2 separate regions of the Homo sapiens genome follow, and region 1 is linked to region 2. The links come from fine-mapping of genetic effects on gene expression. A gene starts in region 2. The other region holds a variant in brackets. All regions are shown on one strand. Distances are from middle to middle. Region 1 overlaps LINC00598 (long intergenic non-protein coding RNA 598). Region 2 holds the start of FOXO1 (forkhead box O1).

What was found.
Region 1: its variant is fine-mapped to the expression of FOXO1 in monocytes (TOPMed, PIP above 0.99). The same link has a PIP of 0.9 or more in blood mononuclear cells and whole blood.

What each region holds. Positions count from the first base shown.
Region 1 is chr13:40,426,072-40,431,445 of GRCh38, reverse strand. All of the region lies in intron 6 of LINC00598 (long intergenic non-protein coding RNA 598), which reads left to right. Among named protein-coding and RNA genes, the nearest start is that of LINC00598, 52 kb to the left of the region's middle. The variant A/G (reference allele first, on the strand shown) is at 2,942.
Region 2 is chr13:40,663,534-40,668,907 of GRCh38, reverse strand. FOXO1 (forkhead box O1) reads left to right here and starts at 2,267. Exons shown (of 3, transcript NM_002015.4): 1 at 2,267-3,325. The coding sequence starts at 2,696. RefSeq lists an enhancer at 1,379-1,428 and silencers at 2,079-2,608, 2,839-2,978, 3,069-3,118, 3,639-4,148, 4,449-4,528.

The DNA.
Region 1 (5,374 bases), 240 kb after region 2:
AACTCAGGTTATCTAGGTCAATGGTAAAACTGCACAGCTTGGTAGAATGCTGCTGGAGAAGATTTTGTCTTCTTCTTTTTGTGTGTGAAATAATTGTTTATTCAAGAAAAGGGATGGATTCAATGCTGCTTTTTCCTTCCAGCTTTTTTGGGTCTCCAGATACAGGGGCAAAACTGATGTTTAGCAGTTCACAAATCTAGGACTACGAGGTGTAAGTGATATGGGACTTCTGATCAATGAGATAGCTTATTAGCACCCAAAGACCCAAGGAGTGGACATTGGTGTTGCCTTTGGTGTGCTAGTGATGCTGTTTGTCGTGGAAAGGTGTGTGAGCTTGCGGAGCATGTACCAGGTCAGCCTTAAGTGAAAGAGAATGGGCCTAGGTGGCCAAGGATCCTTATGCTCTGTTCATTCCTATCCTAGAGTTTTCTGTCCTCCCCAAGATCAAGAGAATATGACAGTGACCCTTTTTCTTACCCAGTTTCTGCATGTGTGTGCATTCAGTTGTGTGCACACATGCATGTATGTAACAACATTACGGCCAGTCTCAGATACTCAGGGAGTGATGTGAATGGTAAACCCAGGTTCATTGGTTTGGGGCTTGGCCACTTCAGCCAGCCCTTGCCATCACTAAGCTCCACTGATGTGCTCTCTCTCTCTCTTACACACACACACACACACACACACACACACACACACACGTGGAGAAGCACAGCAACTCACCAAGAAGGAAGCAAAGCAGATTCTATCTCATGCGCACACTCACTGGCACCGCCTAAGCAGGCCTTGACTACTTTTCTTTCTGAGAAAGGCATGCTATTGCAGGGAGCAACATAAAAGAACAGCACCATCATCAGTGGACCTTAAGAACGCTACCATAAGCAGCATGCCTTCATCTCACTATGCCTGCGTGACGCTACAGAGCCCTGGTTGAGCTTCCTGGGGAGGTATTTCTGGCCATGTGCTCAGAGAGCCTGGCACCTGTGGCTTTTCTCACCCCTAACACAGGCCTGGAATGGGCTTTCTGACCATTATCCCTCTCCCTCTCCTGTCTGTGGAGGCAAAGAACAGAGAACTGCCTTCTGGCCATCTGGTTTCTTTCAGGCCAAGGGATTATGGGCAAGCTTCTTTCCAAGCCGTGAAACCAAGTGGAAATCCCTGGGGAGTGTCTAAACTCAAACTTCTGCCACCCAGGGAAGGAACCTGCCATGCCACGAATTCCTTATCCACTGCCACCTTGACATTTTTCACAGTCAACAGTGTGTTCTGTAGCCTCGCGACATGCCTAATTTGTGTTGTATTTTGAATATCCTTAAAAATGTCCATGTAATGGGAGAAAAACAATGTGTGTGTCTAAGCAGAGTCCTGCCTCCACGTGCAAATCTTTCACTGGCAGAAGTCACATTAATGCTAATGAAATCTGAATGCTGAAGCCCTGTTCTGCAGCAGGGGATGGTCTCCCCTGTGCTGAAACACATTTTCTTCTCATTAGTCCCACCATCTTTATTAATATTAACGGCAATAAAGAGAATTAGGCAGGCTGGCTTCTGGCAGAAACCAGAATTAATGGGGGTGGGGGGGAAGACGAATGCTTGAGGAGTTTAGATGCACTTTTTTAGTGGATGAACTGCATCCTTCTGGGACCCTCATCGGAGTTATTTTGTTCTAAATGAGGTATATGGTGAATCATTGTCATCTTGCAATGGTTACCACTAATGGGGAACTGCTCACAGCCAAAGCCCTCGTTCTAGAGAAAACCTATCCTGGATGTTTTACAGTTGGTGTGTATGCATGCGTGTGTGTGTGTGTGTGTGTGTGTGTGTGTGTGTTTTATGTGTGCATGCTTATATTCATGCATCTATAGTCAAAGGCCAGCTTAATCAGGATTTTTCACCATGAGTAAGTTTGCTACGGGGATCCATTGTTTAATGTGTATCCATGAACATTTCAGAGCTTTAATGTTGTAATGACTGTTTCACCTACCCTGTGAGATATTTTAAAGGGAAATACAGTGAGGGAAGTGGGGGAAGAGTCAGGGAAACTTTCTTTCATAGCAGAAGAGAAATTTTCATGCTGTGGGAAAGTCAATCAAAAGTGGTGAATGATGTATCTCCTACTGATTCCATTCCTCTTGGAAATTTCTCTAATTTTTGCTGCTTATTCAAGCATTGAATGTCACTATGTCAAGTCCCCCTACTGTTCTCAGGGCTGTCTGTGACTCTGGGAGGGGTTTAGACACCTGTATGTTGTCCCCAGGTAGGCAAACAGCAAGGACAGTATGGGGGTTGGGAGGCCTGGGAGAGCACATAGTTCGTTGAGAATTGCTGGTTTTTCTATTCCTGCAAGCAATAACTGTGCCATGGGGATTATGACTGGTAGCAGGAAGGAATGAAATGTGGTCCATGATCAGCTGGAGTCCTTTCTGGTTACACATGGAGGATAGAATGTCTCACCAGTACTCTCTGGGGCACAGGAAAGGACAGCATCTTCAGTTGAACTTCTGTGGCTCATTCTGGAGCTGTTAGCAGCAAAGATGTGCTTACACCTATCTTTACTACTAGGCAGGTGCCCTGGAAGCCTCCAGGGTGTGTGACTCAATGCAAAGGGGTCCCACTTAGAAGCTGGGATACCCAGGTTGGAATCCATGTGCTGACAACATAGTTGTAACATCAGTGGTGTGATGTGGTTGGCAAAACCCTAGTGCACTCTTAGGGTGCATGAACAGAGGACACCATCTAGAATGGAGTGGGTGAGGGGTCCACCAGAAAGGTCATGCCTGGAGAACTAAATTCAGTTCTGGGTGCCACACTTGATGAGCAATATAGATAAGTCAAAACACTTTCAGAGGGCAGTATCCAGGGCAGAGAGGGGATATGAAACCATGTCGCATCAGGAACTCTAGGAGGAACTGAGGCCACTGTCCTGAAGAAGTGATTTGGGG[A/G]AAGGAGTGACTAATCTGCAAGAGCTGTCATGGGGAAGAGGAATTAGATTCCTTTTATGAGGCCTTAGAAGTGAAGTCTGGGACCCCAGCAGAAGCCATGCAGAAATGCATTTTAATTGCATGTCAGAAGGATCTTTCTTATAGTTGCAAATGTCTAAAGATACTTCAGATTGTTGCTGTTGGGGATAATTACACCAAATTCTGCAATTCTGACATGGGTGTTTTGATGCCATGGAAATTTTGATGCCATGCATTGAGGTGGTCATTTTGACACCAAATGCCTTTTAGGATAGAATCAAACCCTTTGGGCAAGAGCAGAACATAGCAAATGGTTTCATTCCTACTATTAAACTTGCTCCTCTCTTTTAAATTAAGTGGGAAACAGATGTTGTTGGCACATCTCCTTACACCCTCTTTCAGCCTGCCTCTTCTCTTCCCTGACCCAGGCTCCATCCCTGGGGCCCACCTACCCTTCACTTGTCCCTTTTGAGTAGCACAAGGATGGGGATATGATGACCCTGAAGATGAGTGACAGATCTCTGGGGTGGAGCTGGGGTTAGAGCTGAAAATACAAAAATAGTTACTTCTATTTATTTGTATTTTAGCGTAATTGATATTTTCTGCTGTAACCAGAAAGCCTCATTTATAATTTTATGCTTCACATGTCAAGATGTCCATGTGTCAAAATGGCCTCATCAAAATGCTGTTCTTACAACTAGCTGGACATACATTAGTCAAGTATATTGTACAAGGAACTCAAGCATCATAGGGGTGGTTGAACATGGTTATTTATAAGGTATTTTGTAATTCTGAAATTCTGTGCTCTAACTCAATAGTTCCCAGATGCAGGTCCTTGGACCATGCTAGTCTATGACAAAGTTTTTACCATGTGCATTAAAATGCAGAAAAAGAAAAACAATGGATTTAATTTTCTCTAAGCCTGCGTTTATTCAATTGTAAGGACTTTCTTAATTCTGAGATAAGGGTCTTTCTTTTCTTTTTGTTGTTGTTAAAATCTCCTTCATTTTGAAATTATAGTGATAGTAGGTGGTATTTAAAAATGTCAATGGACAAAATAAATATGCCTGTCTCACTATTACATTTTTTTTCTTTTCCCAATGTATTAAGTCCCAAAGTCTGGGAGGCCTGATTTAAGTCACCTAATCTTTGGAATCTTATTTATTTATTTATGAAACGTGCATAGGCTAACCTGGGTTCCATATCTCCCAGCATGATCATAAACTTCTCATAGGCTAATGTAGATCACTGTTATTTGTAGCTGAAAATGACATATCCTTTGTAGGAGACAAATGGCAGAATAAATGTGGCAATGTCGTTGTTAAAATGAGTTGTGTGGATAGACAGGATGGTGGGGCAGAAGTAAAACTTTCTCCTCTTGCCCTATTTTTTTTCCTTCTCAGCTTCCAGTCGCCCAAATAAATGGCAGCCAGGGAGCTTGGCTGTGTTCTTTCAGAATCACTATGACAAAGTTTCCGTCAGGGCAGCCAGAAGAAGATGAGTGTGCCCAGGGAAGCCAGCACACAAGCCCTTTGATGGAGCATGGTGGTGGGGCATTGGGGGTTGAAGGTTGGGGAATAGCCCTAAGAATGGGGAAGAGGAGTGGTCTTGGCTGTCCCAACACAGGTGTGAACATAGGGGTACGTTTATCAGGGCTGCATTTTCTAGCCAGGTGTGAGACCACACCCTACACCAATTAAATCATGAATCTCTGCTGACACCACAGTGTTCTAGGTGACTCTCATACATAGTCAGAATGGAGACATATGCTCTAAGCCCTACGTGGGGGCGTGGGAGGAACACTTTGAAAAGAACAACCAGGTTATAGCTTATTTGTGCTGATTTCTATCAAATGTAGCAAATTCCCCCCTTCAGTTTTCAAAGAACCATTACAGTTGGCAGCCATCTTGGCTAGAGCTCACTCTAAGGCATCTGCTAGTTGTATTTGATCTCCATCTTTTGTCGTAATATCTTAACAAGAGAAATAATGAAGTATTGAGGTTAAGAGTTCAGCTTCTGAAGAAATGGCTTAGTATAAAATGGCACTGACAAAAGGCACTGTTCCTCATTTACTGGGTTAATGGCTACATATCCCTCCATTACCCTTGTTAAACTTAAAAGAATTTGTCAAGCAGGATGTGAACTTCCACGGCTTCCTAGGAACCATTCCGTGGCTCTCAAAGAGATTCCAAGTGAGCTTTTCCCCACCACATTCCCAGAAGCATGAGCCATCGCACTCCTGAGAAGGGGAGCCCCGTGCGAGGAGGGACTGCCTGCCCCTCGGTGGGCCTGTCCTACACCTTTGCTGCACACCCGCTGCCCATTGCTTAGTTCTACAGCTGTAAGAACACTGGGCACAGGCGCTGCACCCCTCATTTTACTTATGGGAAAAACTGACGAGGTCTGAGAGGTGCC
Region 2 (5,374 bases):
CTGTAAAAACCCTTCAATATATATTTTTAATTTTTTGGACCTATGTGTCAGGGACATTGGTGTTATAGGTTCTCTGTGCCTGCCTCGTCAATTTTTTTAAAGAAAGACCAAATAAAAGTAAACTATGACATTTGAAGAAACAATTGGGCAGGAGAGCCTCAAAGATTTCAAGGATTTGGGGAAAGTCTGTAGGAAGACTCCTTTAACCAAATAAATATTCTCTGACGCCCTGAAAAACCGGAATAGAAATGAAGGCAAGGCCAAATTTGAAGCTGGCTTCCTTTGCCAAGAATGATCCAGTAGGGCACCGCCTATTTTTAGGGTGCGGCTGTCTGGATCGGGGGCTGCTTCTGCAGAGTGTAATTGGAAAGGTGGGGGGAAGCAACAGCTGTACTTTGGGGGCCTGCCTTTGAGCTCATCATCTGAGTTACTGAGGTCCCCTAGCGGCTGTCAGAGGAGGCCCAGACTGTCCAAATTTGATAGTAAACGTGAAGAGACCACAAGACCAGGGTGGGAACCAGTCCCCGCCCGTCCCCAATCCATCCGGCTCACGCTCCCCACCCCACCCATGCCTAGTATCAGCAAGAAGCTGTTGTGATAAATAGATTATGAAGAAACAGGAGCCCGGACTAGAGAGACGATAGTGAGAATATAAAAGAAGAAAGATAATCTCTCTCAATCTTTTTAACTTTTGTAAGAGGCCTAATTTTTCCTTTTTTCCCCTCTTTTCTCTTTTATTTTTTCAACAACCTCTTGTCCAACTGACTAATTTTCTCTAGATGCCACTTTTTCCATTGCAGAATTACTTGTAAGAAAGAAAGGGATTAAAAAACAAGAGTTGGAAGCTGTCCTTTTGGACAAGATATTTAAAACCCTACTGTCCATCTTCCATCCTAAGTGGTCCCATCTTTCTAAAAGGAAATGCCTTCCATATTCTTCCTAAAAAAGCAAAAGCATAACAAAACAAAACTGGAAAACTGTTTCTTCTGCTTGAGACACAAGGGCCATTATCTTCCCACCTTTGGCCCCACTGATCCTTGACAGGATGTCCTGGACCTGCAGCCCAGATGAGGAAAGGTGGGGTGTGGGTGGGGGGTTGACTGACACACACAGCAAGTAGCCTCAAGGAATTTGGGGGTGGGGCAGGCTGCGCCCCAAGGCTTTGGTCCTATCTCCCGCCCCCCTTGCGTTTTTACTTAACACCCGATCACTTCCGTTGCAAATAAAAAAGAAGTAACAAACAGCTAAATTTAATTAGGGATAAGTAATAAAATGACCTGGTTCTCTCTAACTGCGCTCCTGAGCCCTTCGCTGCCGGCCCTGGACTTAGTGGACGGAGCGGGAGATTCCCGCCCAGGGGAAGAGGTTCCCACGGAGGGCATGCGGTCGCGGGTGCCTTTGGATTCGTGTGTTCAGGGAGGCCAGATAATCTCCTCCCCGCGCCGGAGCCCCTGTTCCTCATTTCTAGCATTTTAAAAAAGGTCAAGAATACAGTGAATCCGGCTGGGGGCTGCCGGCTGGGTGACGCGCCTCTGGCTAGACCGAATGGCACAGGCTGAGCCCGGGGGTGCGGACCGGTGGGCACGGAGAAGGGTCCCTCGGCGCGGACTCGACTGCAGGAGCCGCGGCGCCGGGGGTGGGGGGCGTGTGCCGCTCGCGAGGGGGCCGGAGGACTTGACAGATCGCAGCGAAAGAAAACATTAAACCAAAACAAAACCCACCGATTCCCCACGTCGTTCAGCAAAGACATCGTGGGTGGAGCCAGGAGGGAGCGATTGAGTAGAATTCCTCGCGGCCGCCTCCGCCCGCCCACCCCGCGCCCCCGGCCCTCGGCCCCCTGCCCTGCCAGCCCGCCGGGCTCGGCCCGCAGCGGAGGTCAGGGAGCAGCGAGCGCCTCCTCCCACCCGGGCTTCCCGAGTACTCGGCTCTGCTGCTCCGTAGTAAACAAAGTGTCGCCGGCGCCTCCACGCTGGTTTGCTTCCTAGCAATCAAAACACTGAGAAGGCGAGAGAATCACAGAAACACTCGAGAATTACCAGAAAATAATAGAGATCCAAAAAAAAAAAAAGGAGGTGAGTGTGTGAAAGAGAAAAACACCCCACTACCCCCCACCAGCCCACCGCCGCCTCCCCGTGGAAAACCGGGCCCCACCCAGCCCGGCGCCCACTGGCTGCCCGGGCGGCGGTGCCGCATGCCCATTGGCCGCGCGGGCTGTCGGTCAGGGGCGGGCCGGCGCGCGCGCCGCCGCGGGCGGGGGGCGGCGGCAGATCCCGTAAGTCGGGCGGCCTGGTAGTCGCAGCAGCCGCTGCCGCAGCCGCCACATTCAACAGGCAGCAGCGCAGCGGGCGCGCCGCTGGGGAGAGCAAGCGGCCCGCGGCGTCCGTCCGTCCTTCCGTCCGCGGCCCTGTCAGCTGGAGCGCGGCGCAGGCTCTGCCCCGGCCCGGCGGCTCTGGCCGGCCGTCCAGTCCGTGCGGCGGACCCCGAGGAGCCTCGATGTGGATGGCCCCGCGAAGTTAAGTTCTGGGCTCGCGCTTCCACTCCGCCGCGCCTTCCTCCCAGTTTCCGTCCGCTCGCCGCACCGGCTTCGTTCCCCCAAATCTCGGACCGTCCCTTCGCGCCCCCTCCCCGTCCGCCCCCAGTGCTGCGTTCTCCCCCTCTTGGCTCTCCTGCGGCTGGGGGAGGGGCGGGGGTCACCATGGCCGAGGCGCCTCAGGTGGTGGAGATCGACCCGGACTTCGAGCCGCTGCCCCGGCCGCGCTCGTGCACCTGGCCGCTGCCCAGGCCGGAGTTTAGCCAGTCCAACTCGGCCACCTCCAGCCCGGCGCCGTCGGGCAGCGCGGCTGCCAACCCCGACGCCGCGGCGGGCCTGCCCTCGGCCTCGGCTGCCGCTGTCAGCGCCGACTTCATGAGCAACCTGAGCTTGCTGGAGGAGAGCGAGGACTTCCCGCAGGCGCCCGGCTCCGTGGCGGCGGCGGTGGCGGCGGCGGCCGCCGCGGCCGCCACCGGGGGGCTGTGCGGGGACTTCCAGGGCCCGGAGGCGGGCTGCCTGCACCCAGCGCCACCGCAGCCCCCGCCGCCCGGGCCGCTGTCGCAGCACCCGCCGGTGCCCCCCGCCGCCGCTGGGCCGCTCGCGGGGCAGCCGCGCAAGAGCAGCTCGTCCCGCCGCAACGCGTGGGGCAACCTGTCCTACGCCGACCTCATCACCAAGGCCATCGAGAGCTCGGCGGAGAAGCGGCTCACGCTGTCGCAGATCTACGAGTGGATGGTCAAGAGCGTGCCCTACTTCAAGGATAAGGGTGACAGCAACAGCTCGGCGGGCTGGAAGGTGAGTGGACTCGGCGCGCGGCCGGACCTTGGGGGCGCGGTGGGTCAGGCGAGGGCGCAGCTGTGCAGGTTTGCTCGGCCTGAAGGTGCGGAGCAGGAGGGCAGCGCGTTCCCAGGAGGGCGGGCGAGAAGCGGTGGTCGCGGTGGCCTCGCCCGGGTCCGGTCGGGGACGGCAGTAGGTGTGCGTGCGCGCCAGTCAGGAGTTCGCGTGGGACGCGGTAAGGGGCTCGTTGGGGAACTAAGTAAAGAAAGTGCGCCAAGAAGTGGACGTCAGAGCGAGGCCGAAAAGTTTGCCAGTGAAAGGAGAAAGGGGTTCGCTGGGAGCGGCAACCCCCGGCCCGCGCCGACTGCTTCGGCTGCCCCTTCCCTCCCGGACCTCCGCGGGGGGAGGGCGGGTTCTCTCCGGCCGCGCCGCGGAGCTGTTTCCGCCGGGCGCGGCGGGGGAGGGCGCGGCGAGGGGCCCCGGAGCCTCGCTGCCCCGGGACCGGGCTGCAGGTGGAGGGGACAGGCAGGGCGCGACCGGCCGGGGACGGTGCAGGGCCTGCCGGGCAGTTTCTGGAGGCGGTGCGCATTTTGCTTTGTTTTGGTTTTCTCCGGAGTGGCCTCGAGTGCCGGGGGCCCGGCGTCCCGAGCCCGAGGTGGTGCCTCCGACACGTGCGAAGGGGCGGCCACCGCCTGCGGAGCGCCGGCGCCTGGCCGCGCGGGGCGAGCTAAAGTTCAAGTGTGACCCTCGGCGGGGGCGGGCGCGGGCGGTGGCGGTGGCGGTGGCGGTGGCGTGGGAGGGGCCCCGGGCGCAGGAAGCCCGCGCCTTTAAAGGGCCAGCGCGTCGGGGCCGGGCGCCGTGGGGCCAGCGTTTCTCCATGCGGGGAAGCGCCCGAACTTGGTCTTGCCCCTGGTAGGAGGCTTTTAGTTAGAAACACAGAGGCTGCCCTGAGGGGCCGGGGGCTGGGATGTGTGAGTCTTTTCCTGCCTTGCCACCCTATTCTTGAGCATGGAGGACCAGGCGGGGGGGCTTTGCGACCAATGTTTTGAGGGAGTCGGAGTGGCGGTGCGCGTCGAGGGAGCGGTGCCTTGAAGGAGGATTTTTGCCATTTTTGCCTTTCAGAGCGTGGCCAGGAGAGACTTAGCGTGGGGGCAGGCACTTCCCGACTCCGAGGAGAAGGCCCGGGGGCCCTCGGCTCCGGGGAGGCTTCCCGGGGGCGGGGTCCAGTCGTGGCGCGGCCTCCCCAAGCTGACAGTTTCTCACTGTCACCGGTGGCGGAATTGCTGTAAAGGCTGTCTAGTTGAGCTAAACACCTCCCTCCCCTCCTCCGAGACGGAGTCTCGCTCTGTCGCCAGGCTGGAGTACCGTGGCGCGATCTCGGCTCACTGCAACCTCCGACTCTCTGGTTCAAGCGATTCTCCTGTCTCAGCCTCCCGAGTAGCTGGGATTACAGGCACGAGCCACCACGTCGAGCTAATTTTTGTGTTTTTAGTAGAGACCGGGTTTCACCATGTTGGCCAGGATGTTCTGGATCTCCTGACCTCGTGATCGGCCCGCCTCGGCCTCCCAAAGTGCTGGGATTACAGGCGTGAGCCACCGTTCCCGGCCGAGCTAAACACCTTTTTAAAACATACCTTTCTTCGCCTCTCATATTGGACTCCACGGCATAATAAAGATTGGTCTTTGCTGCGCAGTTGTTAACACCAAGGTTATTTTACACACAGTGTCATCCCTGTGGTTAATGCGTGTCAAAAGGGTTAAGTTACTCACACCTTATTGAAGTTCCTTTAGAAGGAATTCAAGATTCATTTTATTTTTTCCAAAGTGTGTTTTAGAGTAAAGGTATCACTTATCGCTTCATTACCAGGCATTACATGCAATTTTACCAAGTGTTTCAAAAAAGTAAAGTGCCTTCTTACCGTTAAGTTCAGCATATATTCTATTAAGTCACAAAATCGAAATTGTCTGCCAAATCTTGTTTTACTTAACATTTGAATTTAAGTACTTGACTTACTTGCTCATCTATCAATTCCACTTCAGCTGTTACAGAGTATTAGCCATTTAAAA